Homo sapiens: one gene and its partner. The protein of the gene in region 1 purifies or fractionates together with the protein of each later gene. This does not show direct contact. Each region holds a gene or a part of one and is shown on either strand. Other genes may lie near its edges.

Region 1 (7,034 bases):
TAATTTGTCTAATGCTATGAGTGGGGTGTTGAAGCCCCTCACTATTATTGTATTGCAGTCTACCTCTGTCTTTAGACATAGAAATTTTTTTTAATGAATCTGGTTGCTCCAGTGCTGGGTGTGTATATATTTACAATTGTTATATCCTCTTACTGAATTGATCCCTTTATCATTATAAAATAAACTTGTTTGTTGTTGTTTTCTACTGTTTTTAACTTAAAGTCTGTTTTACCTAATGTAACTATAGCTACTTCTGCTTGCTTTTGGTTTCTGTTGGCATGGAATATCTTTTTCCACTTCTTTACTTTCAGTCTAAATGCTTTTACAGGTAAGGTGAGTTTCCTATTAGCAGCATATAGTTGAATCATGTTTTTTTTTTTTTTTTAAAGAAATCCATTCAGCCAGTCTATAGCTTTTATGTTGAGCATTTAATCCATATATGTTTAAAGTTATTATTGATATGTGGAGTTTTGTTCCTTTTGTCTTATTGTTAATTGCTTTCTGGTTATTTTATACATTGTTTCTTTTTCTCTTACTGTTTGTCATTGTGGACTGGTGGAATTCTGTAGTGGGCCCATTTGATTCATTTCTGTTCCTCCTTTGTGTGGTCGCTTTAACAGTGAGTTTTATACTTTCCTGTGTTTTCATGATGCTAACTTCCATTTTTTTGCTTCCAAGTTTAGGATTTCCTTGAACACTTCTTGTAGGGCCAGCCTAGTACAGACGAATGCCCTTGGCATTTGCTTGTTTGGGAAATACTTTATTTCTCTTTCATTTATGAAGGTTAATTTTGCTGGATATAGAATTCCTGGCTGATAGTTGTTTTCTTCCAGCTCTTTGAATTATCATCCCACTCTCTCCTGGCCTGTCAGGTTTCTGCTGAGAAGTACGGTTATTAGTCTGATCGGGTTTCCCTCACAGTTGATGAGATGTTCTCATCTTGCTGTTTTTAGAATTCACTCTTTGACTTTAGACAGTTTGATTTTAATGTGCTGTGGTGAAAACTTTTTTTTTTTTTTTGCATTGTATTTGGGGAATCACTGCACCGCCTATATCTGGATGTTTAAATCTCTTGCTAGACTTGTGATGTCTTCATCTATTATTGCATTAAATAGGTTTTCTAAGCCTTCTGATCTTTTTGTCCTTGCGGATACCAATAATTCAAATATTCAGCTGCTTTATGTTGTCCCAAATGTCTTAAAGGCTTTGTTTATTCTTTTTTATTTTTGTCTTACTGGATTGTTTCAGACCTGTATTCAAGTTCTAAAATTTTTTTGTTCCACTTAGTCTAGTCTATTGTTAAATCTTTTGAATGTATTTTATATTTCCTTCAATAAATTCTTCAATTCCAGAATTTATGTTAGGGTTTTTTTAAAAATAAAAATCTATCACCTTGTAAAATTTTTCATTTATATCCTGAATTGTTTCACTGAGTTCTTTGTATTGGTTTTCAGATTTCTCTTGCACCTCACTGACCATATTTAAAAATCAGTATTTTGAGTTCCTTATCTGAGACTTTAAGAATTTCATTCTGGTTATGATCTATTAGTGGAGAACTGTTGTGTTCATTCTGGGGTGTCATACTTCCTTGTTTTTCATGTTTCCTGTGAGACTCTGAATTTCTATCAAGTTTCCAGTTGATGCCAATAATGCTGATTCCACACAGCCTTTCTCAACCAGCATTCATTATCTGAACCATGGAACACAGAGAATGTTTTGAGAAGCTCTTTTCTCAATTCTCCCAAGGATGGTACCTAACCAGAACCATTCTAGATACAAATCAGGACACTGATTCCTTACATGCAATTAGTGCCTTTGGTTTAGGGCTTAATTTTTTTGAGGAAACTTGGTTGAGAAAGCTGTCTTTGTAAAGCTGCTAAAGAGAAAGGCTCAGACTCTGAAAAAGCTAGCTTTATAGAGAAAACTACACCATTACCACCTTTAATTCTAACCGGTCTTTTGTATCAATAATATCATATCGATGATAATGAAATAATTGGACTAATAGTGTTTTGGTCTACGAAATATCATCTATTAATTCAGTAATTATTTGTGGAGTACCTGCTATTGCTTAGCACTGTGATGCTGAAAACATTTGAAGAATAAATGATGAAATAATTATTCATAACTTTTAAGCACCTTCTTCCTGTTGTTCATCATTAAACTTAAGTGAAATATCTGTACATGACTCAGATACTTTAGAAAAATATTCTCAGCAAAAAATCCCAGCACAATTTTAATTTAATAAGTTTTAATAAGATTTAATAAGTTTTTATTAAATCTTTTTAATAAATAATCTTTTTAATAAAATAAGATTTATTAAATTTTAATTTAATAAGATTTAATAAGTTATTTGTGATGCCTCCTCACATAATTCTCACAATTCTGGGGATAGCCTAATAATTGCTAGCTGTAGACAGAGAGAAGAAATAGCCAAATCCAACAGCTTCAAAGGACCATACCTCGAATGCATGATTGTTATAGAAGCGGTCTTCTACCTTACTCCCCCATTCTGCTGGATCAAAGTTGGTTTCTAAATAATAAAAATATAAGAACTTCAGATTTATTTGAATTCATTAAGGTAAATGTAGAATAGTGACACAAATGTAAGTTTCTTGTTTCAAATTACAGGTTCTTTACTGGCAGTCCAAAATCTTATTGACATTGTGCATAGCGTAGCACTGCAGACATTACCAGTGATTATTAAACATATGATAACCAACTGAACATTGGATGAGCCTTTGGGGATATTTAGAAAAGCACTAAAAACGTAATTTCTGCCTTCATAAAATTTATAATAAAATGGGAAAAAGAACAAATGCCAGTACTTAAATATAAATGTAGACACTTAGAACATGTATTAGTAAACACAGAAAAATGTATAAACCTAAATGCTAAGTTGTCAGAAAGTCTGGAAAAGTGAAAGATGGGAGAAATTTTTTTTAATGAAGTATATTATGTAGACAGTTGACACAGACAAGCAGAGGTATTTATTTTTAAACAATTTTTTTCTTTAACTTTATATTATAAAAATTTCAATACTTAAAAAGTAGATATGATAACAAACTCCCATGAGCATACTGTCTAGATTCAATGATCAACCCATGATTTATTTTATTTATAACCTTTTCTTCTGATTATTTTTCTGCACTTTTTTCTGATTATTTTTAACCCAACCCCTTGCATCCTGTTATTTTATCTACAATTATTTATTTCAGAATGTATCTCAATATATACTCTTTTAAAATATAACCACACCACCATTATCATACTTCAAAATACTAAAAATATTAATAATTCCTCAATATCCTCAACTATTCAGTCAACTATCCAAATTTCTTCCATTGTCTATTTATTTGTTGGTTCAAATCAGGACCCCGAAAACGGGCACACACAGCTCTTTGTATGTCTTTTAAATTTCTTTTAAAGGAAGAGCCCCCAGCCCCTATTCTTTCCTTGCAATTTATCTGTTGATGAAATTACGTCATTTTCCCTTTGGAGTTTTTCACAGTTCAGATGTTTCTGACTATCCCCATGGTGGCTTTTAACAAGTTCTTCAGCCTTTGAATTTCCTGTAAACTGGTAGCTAGCTGTATAGGTTTGATCTAATTCGGGTTTGACGGTTTGATTTTTTTTCTGCAAGTATACTTGATTGGTAGTGCTGTGTAATTCTGTCATAAAATTTATAATATCTGGTTACTCTTTTTATAATTTTTATCGGCCCCCTGATGATCCTTGCTTAGATCATTTCCTTAGGGGTTGTGAAATGGTAATGCTCTAATTTGATCAATACTTCTTTATTTTCTGGAGTACTCATTAAGGAAAACTTTTCCTCATCAACTGTTTGGTTACTCCGAAGAACAGTTGTTACAGAAAAGAAAGGTTAAAGGTTTAGTTCTTTCCTTTCCTTTTATTTACCAGTTTTCAGAATAATCAGTTGGATTCCTAGGATCCTCTCAGGATGACCAATGAGTTTTTTTTTAACCATCACAAATTCACGAATGTTTAAGAAAATGGATGCATTTTAATCCAATGCACGTATTATTCTTATTGATGCTCTAATTATTAAACATTTGTCCAGTGGTAGCTTATTCAGGTGCTCAAATGTTCCTGAGTCCTTTGGAAACACCTCTAGTAACCTTTGATAGCTTCCTTGTTCTCTGGTATGGCAAGACGTTCAGCCTAATCTGGTATATTCCCTGCCAAGTTCATGAAATTAGCTTGTTTTCCAAGAAGCCCTCATTCCTGGGAATGGTATTTAGAGATGACAACCTGGAAGCTGGGTGCTCACTGGTATTGGGTTGGTCATTGTTTTGAGACCTTTAATGTACAGAGCTAGAAAATACTTCTTTCATTTTTTAAAGAGAAAACATGAGGTCACACTGATATTTTTCAACTCAAATTTAAGATTACAGGATTTTATTAACCTCTTTCATTTTCATAATTGTATGTTGTTTTTCCTGCACCAAAAATCTTATTCCTAATAACACTAGCTTAGTTGCTTACTTGCTTTGTTCTACAATATATAATTTCACTATATAATTTCAGAATAACCATACCATAATATGATTAACAATGATTACTGAAAACAGCTTAAGGGTTTTTTTTTTTGAAGTTCATTTTGTTTTTAGGATATATGCACTAGGCATGTACGGTCAAATTACTCCATTTTAATATCACTTGAAATAATTCCTTTCTGTATGGTTATGTCACGCAGTCTATACTAGTTAGGCTCATATGTTTCACTTTGCTTTTACATTTTAGAAATTGCTTTTTTTTTTTTTTTGAGACAGAGTCTCACTCTGTCACCAGGCTGGAGTGCAGTGGTGCGATCTCGGCTCACTGCAACTTCCGCCTCCTGGGTTCAAGCCATTCCCTTGCCTCAGCCTCCCGAGTAGCTTAACAATTTTAAATTTAAAATTATAACTATGTTAAACTTTTATGATTCGAAATTCAAGATATTTTCTATCATGTTCTCTCTACCCTGTTCACTTTCTCCTAAAGGCAAATGTTAAGTTTTCAAAGATTTACTTTTCCATTTAAAAATATAAACAAAGTTGGGCATGGTGCCTCATTCTTGTAATCCCAGAACTTTAGGAGGCGGAGGCTGGCGGATGCTTGAGCTCAGGAGTTCAAGACCAGCCTCGATAACATGGCAAAACCCTGTCTCTGCCAAAACAAAAAACAAAAACTCCCCAAAACAAAAATTAGCCCAGCGTGTTTGTGCATGCCTGTAGTTCCCAACTACTTGGGAGGCTGAAGTGGGAAGGCTGCTTGAGCCTGGGAGGTTGCAGTGGAGCCACGATTACACCACTGCACTTCAGCCTGGGCGACAGAGCCAGAGCCAAACCCTGTGGCAAATACACACACAAACACACACACACACACACACACACACACACACAGTTATGTATTCATATCAACCTCTTTTGTTAAATGATAGCATACTGGCCAGGTGTTGTTTCTCACAGCTGTTATTCCAGCACTTTGGGAGGCTGAGGCAGGAGGATCATCACTTGAGCCCAGGAGTTTGAGGCCAGCCTGGACAACATCATGAGACCCCCGTCTGTGTTTAAAAAAAAAATGGTAGCACACTAAGCACACTTTTCCCCATCTTGCTGTTTTCACTGAATATATCCCGAAAATCACTCCACAGTATCATCCATAGTATTATCGAGAGATAGTTCTCATTTTTGAAAACAGCTATATATATAATTCAGTTGTATAGATGTATTATAGTTTGTTCACTCAAACTCCTGTGGATATTTGGGTTGTTTCTACAAAGAATGATGCCCTGAAAAGTGTAGAAGTGGCACCTCCGGGTCAAAGGTTAAATACATATATAATTTTGGTAGGTATTGCTAAGTTCCCCTCCTGGAAGTTATGGCATTTTGCTTATCTACCAGCAATGTATATAAATGCTTATTATCCCACAGCCTACAGAGCATGTTGGCTTTTTGCCAATGTAATGGAGGGGTTGTTATTGGTAGCTCAGTGTAGTTTTGATTTGGACTTCTGTTATTATGCATTAGTTTGAATATACTTTCATAAGTGCCATTTGCATTCATTTTTGTGTGAATTGTTTGCTCATACCTCTTGCCAATATTTTCTGTTGGATTCTATAAGCCTATAACACACTGTTTTTACAAACTATTTATTTATTAGGGCTATTAACCCATTGGGATATAAATTGCAAATATTTTTTGTTTGTCTTTTGTAGTTTTGTTTTCCTCACAGTGCTTTTTCTCATGTAAAAGTTTACTTTTATGTTGTCAATTTATAACAATCTTTTCTCTAATTGCTTCCGAATTTTTGAAGCAATTAAAGCAATTTAGCTAGCAAAATTTTTTCTTCTCTTATAGAGAAATTCATCCATATTTTCTTCTAGTATCTGTATGGTTTCTTTTAAAAAATATTTATATACTCGACTAATTTGGAATTTGTCTTTGTGTATAAGAAATTGATCCAATTTTATCTTTTTCCTTTATCTTAAAATAACAAAAAGTCCACCTTTTTCCTAGTGACCTGAAATACCATTTAAATCATATACTAACATGTTCCCCATCACAAAAATAAAAATTAAGAGTAGTAACCACCTATGATGAATGCTGGCAAGGGAATTCTTGCATTGTGTGGGAGACTGAGCCAGAGGTCCATAATGATTGTTTTTTTTCCTTTTTGAAGAGACTGAATTCTGATACTTGTATCTTCTAGATAATTTGTCTTTGGTTGACATGGGTGGAATTGGGTGTGGTGCTTACAATTTTTTCAAATGGTTTTACCCATTGTTTATTAGAGAGCTAGTGTCCTGAGACCACTAATCTGAATCATCATTTGCTTTAATTATTGTGATCCAGTAACAATGACGCAAATGTTTTTATAATGGAATATTTCTGAGTTCTAAAATTAAATAAATGACTAAAGACTTTTACTGCAAGAATTTGTAGTTAATCTTATAATAAAATTGATGTTCATTATAATTCACCTCTTTTCCCAAATAATTTTAGTTTTTTCCCCTTCCAACTTTTATTTTA
Region 2 (7,034 bases), on another chromosome or scaffold:
CTACTGTTTATTGATACGTTGTAAATGTAAAAAAAGGAAAAAACCTGAAATCACAGAAAATGCTTGGCATCTACACAAACACATTCTCAGTGGACTAACCACTACTGTGTAATTTTGTCACTACAGGTCTTGCTCCATACTTTTGCTTCATGCAGTGGGTTCAACAATATCCATGTTCGTTCCAAACAGGGCAACTAACTGTTCTTCATAGGTAGCGATGTTCCTTTTCATAATTTCCATGCAAGGTCCCAGAAGCCTTTCAAATGCTTGCACATCCATTGCTGAGAAAAGAGAAGATTTTTTTTTAAATAACATTCTTTGCAAATCTGCAGAATTTCTAAGTCATTTACAATACCGACTCCATATATATCAATAGTGCAATGATATTTTAGGTAAATACTATAAAATACAAGAAAAAGCATAATGATAAAAATGTTCCACTTGAAAAAGGAAGCAGCCAGGGCCACGCTCTTGGACCACACTCTGCAGTCCCTCGGCAATATGATGAGCAATGCTAAGTTGGTGGGAGGTTCCTGGTCCAAGCTGAGAAAAGAATGAGGGACTATCATGGAAAGACCTTAGAATTTTAAAAAATAAATGTGCTGTCTCCACCTTAGCAATGTGAACTCCTCAAGGGTGGCACAAGAGTGTTTTCTATCCTGTGTTCCCTTCTCAGGGTTTAAAATGCCATGTTGTGAAGGCCAAGTGTTAACCTTTTGTAAGTTTTGCTGCCATACTATGTCTATGCAATCCAAAAATGGCAGCTGACATAATGCTTTTGTTTACTTCTATAAGTACATGCTAGAAATCACTTTGCTTGCCTGTCTCCTGGATTTTAAAACTGGATTTATAATATATAAATAGAAAATATGATCATACTCTATACATAAAAGTACAAATTAAAATAGATCTTCTTTGCCTTTTACACTAAAGATAAAAAGATAAAAAAGGCAATGTTTACAAGAATAGGGTGAATGGGCATTATGGCACTGCTAGTAGTGTACAAATACAAGTAATCTGGCAATATGTGTCAAAAGTTAATTTTTTAAAAACCCACTCCTGAAAACCATTTCTAAGGAAAACTCCTATAATACAGAAAAGTCTTCTATGCACAAAAAATTGCTCCCCACAAAAAAGTTGGAGCCAAAACCTTCGAAGTATTTACCACTAAGGAATGATTAATTTATCGTGTATATATTTACCTAAAAGAATTTTAAAATTTGGTGTAATAAAATAAGAACATTCCTAAGCGATAATGAACTTTAAAAGTTGTTTGGAAAACTGTTTAACAACTGGAAGCCCACACAAATAAAAAGGACAAGAAGGAATTATAATAGCAGAAATCACTGAGTGGCGGTGTTATGTTTTTTCTACATTTTCTGTATTTCTCAGGTTTTCTTTGATGTGAGTATAATAATCTATTATTGAAAAAAAATTAACAGACTTTCACTCACTCACCTTTACTCTTTCTAATAGACTTTCACTCACTCACCTTTACTGTAATAGACTTTCACTCACTCACCTTTACTATTTCTAATAGACTTTCACTCACTCACCTTTACTCTTTCTAATAGCCCTACTTAGGGAAATTACCTGCCAGTTTCTAATCGTCTTCTCTTCCATCCAAATTTAACACTTGATTAATATTATACTTATTTAAACCCTTTTAAAGAATGACTTCTCTAAGAAGTTAATTCTAAGGATCCTTGCAAATCTTAAAAACATTAAGTTTATGCTATTGAATTATGGATGAAAAGCACAGAGAGGGTAATAACTGTGAGATCAATTTTCTTAAAATACCCTCCATATTGCCACCTTCTAAACTGTATTTTCTTATCAAAGTAAGTGATTTCTCAGATATATAATCTCAGATATATACAGATGCCTGCACCTGAAGATGACATTTCTGCCAAGCTACTCTGGTAAAATAGTAATAACAACTGAACAGCAAAGAACATTTGACTGTGCTTTGACAAACCTGAACCTTTGTGTCCCAATACTGTAATGAGTAAGGATTCTCACAACATCTCAGCATTCCCCGCAGATCTTAATAACGGACTTTATAAAAATAGTACTTTAGCCTTCTCTTTTGAGGAACATAGCACATGTTGCTTATTTGAGAGATTCCATATAAAACGTGGTACTTGGAACTCTTATTTTAATGACTAATATGGGATGTTATTTCATATATACACAAGAAGAGCAAAATGTATCTGGATGTAAAAATTTCGAAGAAAAAATGGCTTCCACAAATTGATTTTATAAGGCAATGAGTCCTAATCTTGTTACCTTTTGTGGGGACCACAAAACCTGTGAACCCAATAAAATGATTCACTCAACATGAATACATAAAATGCAGACATAAGTTCAACCAGCAGAAGCACGCCCACTGTTGCAATCCCTACCTAAACATTTGACAGTCCCAATGGCGTGGGCAGAAGCTGCTCGAGGTTTGTTAGTTACCAGGGCAAGCTCTCCAAAGTACTGTCCCCGCGAGCATCGAGCGATTTCTACTGCACCATTCTCTTCCACTTCTGATTTACCCTGACAAGGCAATTAAAAAGATGAGCTTTTCCTCAGCTTATGAAAAATAAAATTAACCTCAGTCTAAACATCAAAAAGTAGATCTGTTGTGTTCCTTGCTAACAGTATGTGGGTTCTGAGGACTTAGAATGCTTACCTTTCTTTTCATAGTAATTTTCACTTCTCCAGATTCTACAATGAAAAAAGAATCAGCCGAATCTCCCTATTGGAATCAATAACAAAAACAGACGGTGAAAATGCAAATTAATTGACAACAATCTTGTTACCTTTCATATCCCTAAAATTGATCCAACCCCAAAGTACACATATTCACCTGAAAAGTGAAATCCTAAGGGAACAAGCTGTCTCGGTTTCTAAATCAAGAGGTTTTTTTTTTTTTTGAGACGGAGTCTCACTCTGTTGCCCAGACTGGAATGCAGTGGCGCGATCTCGGCTCACTACAAGCTCCACCTCCCGGGTTCACACCATTCTCCTGCCTCAGCCTCCTGGGTGGCTGGGACTACAGGCGTCTGCCACCACGCCCGGCTAATTTATTTGTATTTTTAGTAGAGACGGGGTTTCAACGTGTTAGCCAGGATGGTCTTGATCTCCTGACCTCGAGATCTGCCTGCGTCGGCCTCCCAAAGTGCTGGGATTACAGGCGTGAGCCACCGAGCCCGGCCCTAAATGAAGAGGTTTTGATGGACAATTATGTAGTAATGATTTCATTTGTAAAATTATTTGAAATAATACTTTCTTTTTCCCCCCCAAGATGGAGTCTCGCTCTGTCACCCAGGCTGGAGTGCAGTGGTGCAATCTCAGCTCACTGCAGCCTCCACCTCCTGGATTCAGGCGACTCTCCCACCTCACCCTCCCAAGTAGCTGGGATTACAGGCATGTGCTACCACACCCAGCTAATTTTTTTTTCCTTTTTTTAAAATTTTACTTTAAATCAGGGATACATGTGGAGAACATGCAGGTTTGTTACACAGGTATACATGTGCCATGGAGGTTTGCTATACCTATCAACCTGTCTGGTTTTAAGCCCCGCATGCATTAGGTATCTGTCCTAATACTCTCCCTACCTTCACTCCCCACCCCCTGACAGGCCCCGGTGTGTGATGTTCCCCTCCCTGTGTCCATGTGTTCTTATTGTTCAACTCCCACTTATGAGTGAGAACATTCGGTGTTTAGTTTTCTACTCCTGTGTTAGTCTGCTGAGAATGATGGCTTCCAGCTTCATCCATGTCCTGCAAAGGACATTATCTCATTCTTTTTTATGGCTGCATAGTACTCCATGGTATATATGTACCACGTTTTCTTTATCCAGTCTATCACTGATGGGCATTTGGGTTGGTTCCATGTCTTTGTTATTGTAAATAGTGCTGCAATAAACATATGTGTGCATGTGTCTTTATAGCAGAATGATTTATATTCCTTTGGGTATATACCCAGTAATGGGTTTTCTGGGTCAAATGGTATTTCTGCCATTAAAAAGTGGGCAAAGGATATGAACGGACACTTCTCAAAAGAATCAAAAGAAGATATTTATGCAGCCAAAAAAAAAATGAAAAAAAGATCATTACTGATCATTAGAGAAATGCAAATCAAAACCATAATGAGAAACCATCTCACGCCAGTCAGAATGGCAATTATTAAAAAGTCAAGCAACGATAGATGCTGGTGAGGTTGTGGAGAAATAGGAATGCTTTTGCACTGTTGGTGGGAATGTAGATTGGTTCAACCATTTTGGAGGACAGTGTAGCAATTCCTCAGGGATCTAGAACCCGTATTTATTTATTTTTTTGTATTTTTATTAGAGATGGGGTTTCACCATGTTGGCCAGGCTGGTCTCGAACTCCTGACCTTGAAGTGATCTACCTGCCTCAGCCTCCCAAAGTGCTGGGATTACAGGCGTGAGCCACTGTGCCTGGCCTTGAAATAATATATTCTCTACCACTGTATTTCTGCTAAAAAACCAAGAAAATGTGGCAACACTGGGGTAAGAATTTCACCCAAATTTCAGCCTAGATAACAGCATACATAGTTGGAAATGGCAACACTGCTGTGTATGCCAGCAGCGTCCCCTTAGTTGGCAGAAACATGTCTGCGGATCCTGTGCTCCTGAGGAAGTGCCGAGACATGCACCCTGCGTCATCCTAACATCGCAAGCATTGGTGTGGTGACCCAAGATAAGCCATCAACTTGCAAAGAGCAGAAAGCATCCAGATGGAGCCGGAAGCAGCAGATGTGGGCCTTGACATTTTCACTACAGTCAACTGAGGACCAAACTCTGACATGCTAGCCTACTGACATTCCATTTCAAGGCTTTGGAAGGACTTCTAAAAGAAAAGTGTTGCTCTACCCATATACCTGTTCTTTCTTGCTTTTGTTTCTTAATGAACTCTGCCTTGATCTCCAATGATGCAGTCTGAATTAAACAATACAATATGGAAGATAATAATACAGACACTGACTTCTCTAAGCCTCTCAAAGTGATTCTGGAGAAACTTAAAATATTTCAAAACTCCTTAATACAAATTCAAGAAGTTTAGCATCTGATTCTATCACAAAAATAAATGTTGAATTTAGATTTTTAGAATATAGGGTGTATATGTATATTTATAAATGCTTAAAAGACAACAAATATGTAAGAATATCCTTAATAAACCCTAAGTATAGCATATCTCCTTTCCCTTATTCTTGTATCAGGTTTTCATAAAAGCTTCATATTAAGTTTTCGAGTGTTCTGAATCATAATAGGTCTATTAACTGCTGAGTAATTTTTAACTATTTTTAAAGCACGCTCTAAGTGTATGTAAAACTGGTGAAAACTGAATATGGTCTGTGAATTATGCCAATGTCATTTTCCTAGTTTTGATATTGTTATTAACAGTGATGCAAAACGCATTAGGAGAAACTGGGTGAAGAGTACACGGGACCTCTCAAAACTATTTTTGCAACTTCCTGTGAATCTATAATTATTTCAAAATAAAACCTTAAAAAATCATTTAAAACATGCTCTTTGCTTTGTTATTTACTAGTTTATACAGTAGAACTTTAACCTTGCTTGACTCCATTTCTTCCCAATCCCTGACTGCTCTAACACACACATACACACACACACACTCAGCAATGGGAGAGGGGTGTTGATCGAAAGATTTACTTATGTATTTGTCTTCTAAAACAATTCTTTTTCTCAGTCTCAAAGACCTTGAATCTTGTTTCCCATATAAAGGAAAAGACTGCATTTCAGATAAAGAGCACAAAACAGTATAAGGCTGTGATACAAAAATTACAGAATCTATTAAAAATCCATTTTAATCATTTGCTTAGTGCTTCAAAAATATAACTAGGAAACAAGGTACTATCATCTGCATGCTTTACCTGTGAACTTCAACAGTCTTCACAAATTCTACTTTTGGTAGCCCTACTCCAACCCAGGTATCTAATATTATTGGTTCCAGCTGGGATCTTAGAAAAGTATTAGGGATTAAATAACATGTTGACCCACATGTAGTCTTGGAAGCCAAAACAGTATATGTTGCAGTGTGTTCCTTTCTTGGTGAATTTTATCAAGGAGCAGCCTCAGGAATTTTCATCATGAACTGATCATGCAAAACTCTATAGAATTTTCCAGTGTACTTTCTGGGTCCTCATTAATGTCATGGAACATTCACCTGTTTTTTCCTCTTATAAATGACTACAATGATGCAGAAAACCATTTGATGGTTTAATACACCTTCATTAGGAGTTAATTACATAAACAAAAATATTCAATAGAGTAATGACTATAAATGAAACCATTTTTAACAGGTCATTTGGTAGAAGTAATATTTATTTAACCCATCACTGCATACTAATTTTAGAAATATGAAAAGTTTATCAAGATCTACCACTACAGGAACCTTTTGGAATATAACCCTAAACTGAATTACATTTCAAAATATCATACCTGAGCAATGATTTGTTCTCCATCGTTGTATACTTTGGTGCCTATCACATCTACTACTTTCAGGCGTTCAGAAAACTACAAAGAAAGAAAAACAATATTAAATAGAAACAAATTAACTGGGTAAGCTTATCTAGTTCGGGAGTAAAAAACTGGTAGCCTATAGGCCAAATAAATCGAGCAGTGTGTAGGTTGTATATGTGTTTGTTGTATTAATTACCAGCCAGCATTTTAAAATAATTTTTCATAAAAATTCAATCTCCAGCTTCTCTTGAAAAATCAGCATCACATAGCCCATATTTCCACATGGCAACAATAAAACTATGGTGGGATAGCAGCTGTTTCTTTAATGAAATACATGTTCTCCAATCTGCCAAAGTCCCTTCCTGGCTTGGTTTTCTTCTCTGTGTTACCTGCCTAGCTCTGAAGGCACCAGATTTCCAATCCCTGACCTACTCTTATTTAAAGAAATATGCTGCTGGAAAAGATCAGCTGTCTACCACGCACTGTGTGATGTGGACAAAATTTTTACCAGATGTAAGCTGATAATCCAACAGAG

What was found. Proteins that work in one complex are often made in the same cells at the same time.
Region 2: the proteins of SPA17 (region 1) and PRKAR2B purify together in Homo sapiens (affinity purification with mass spectrometry; 3 studies listed by BioGRID and IntAct, with this or other methods). This does not show direct contact.

What each region holds. Positions count from the first base shown.
Region 1 is NC_000011.10:124,676,888-124,683,921, reverse strand, and holds part of SPA17 (sperm surface protein Sp17), read right to left. Parts: intron 2,534-7,034; coding exon 2,463-2,533; intron 1-2,462. UniProt on the Homo sapiens protein: Sperm surface zona pellucida binding protein. Helps to bind spermatozoa to the zona pellucida with high affinity. Might function in binding zona pellucida and carbohydrates.
Region 2 is NC_000007.14:107,152,696-107,159,729, reverse strand, and holds part of PRKAR2B (cAMP-dependent protein kinase type II-beta regulatory subunit), read right to left. Parts: intron 6,554-7,034; coding exon 6,479-6,553; intron 2,747-6,478; coding exon 2,681-2,746; intron 2,545-2,680; coding exon 2,406-2,544; intron 282-2,405; coding exon 148-281; 3' UTR 1-147. UniProt on the Homo sapiens protein: Regulatory subunit of the cAMP-dependent protein kinases involved in cAMP signaling in cells. Type II regulatory chains mediate membrane association by binding to anchoring proteins, including the MAP2 kinase.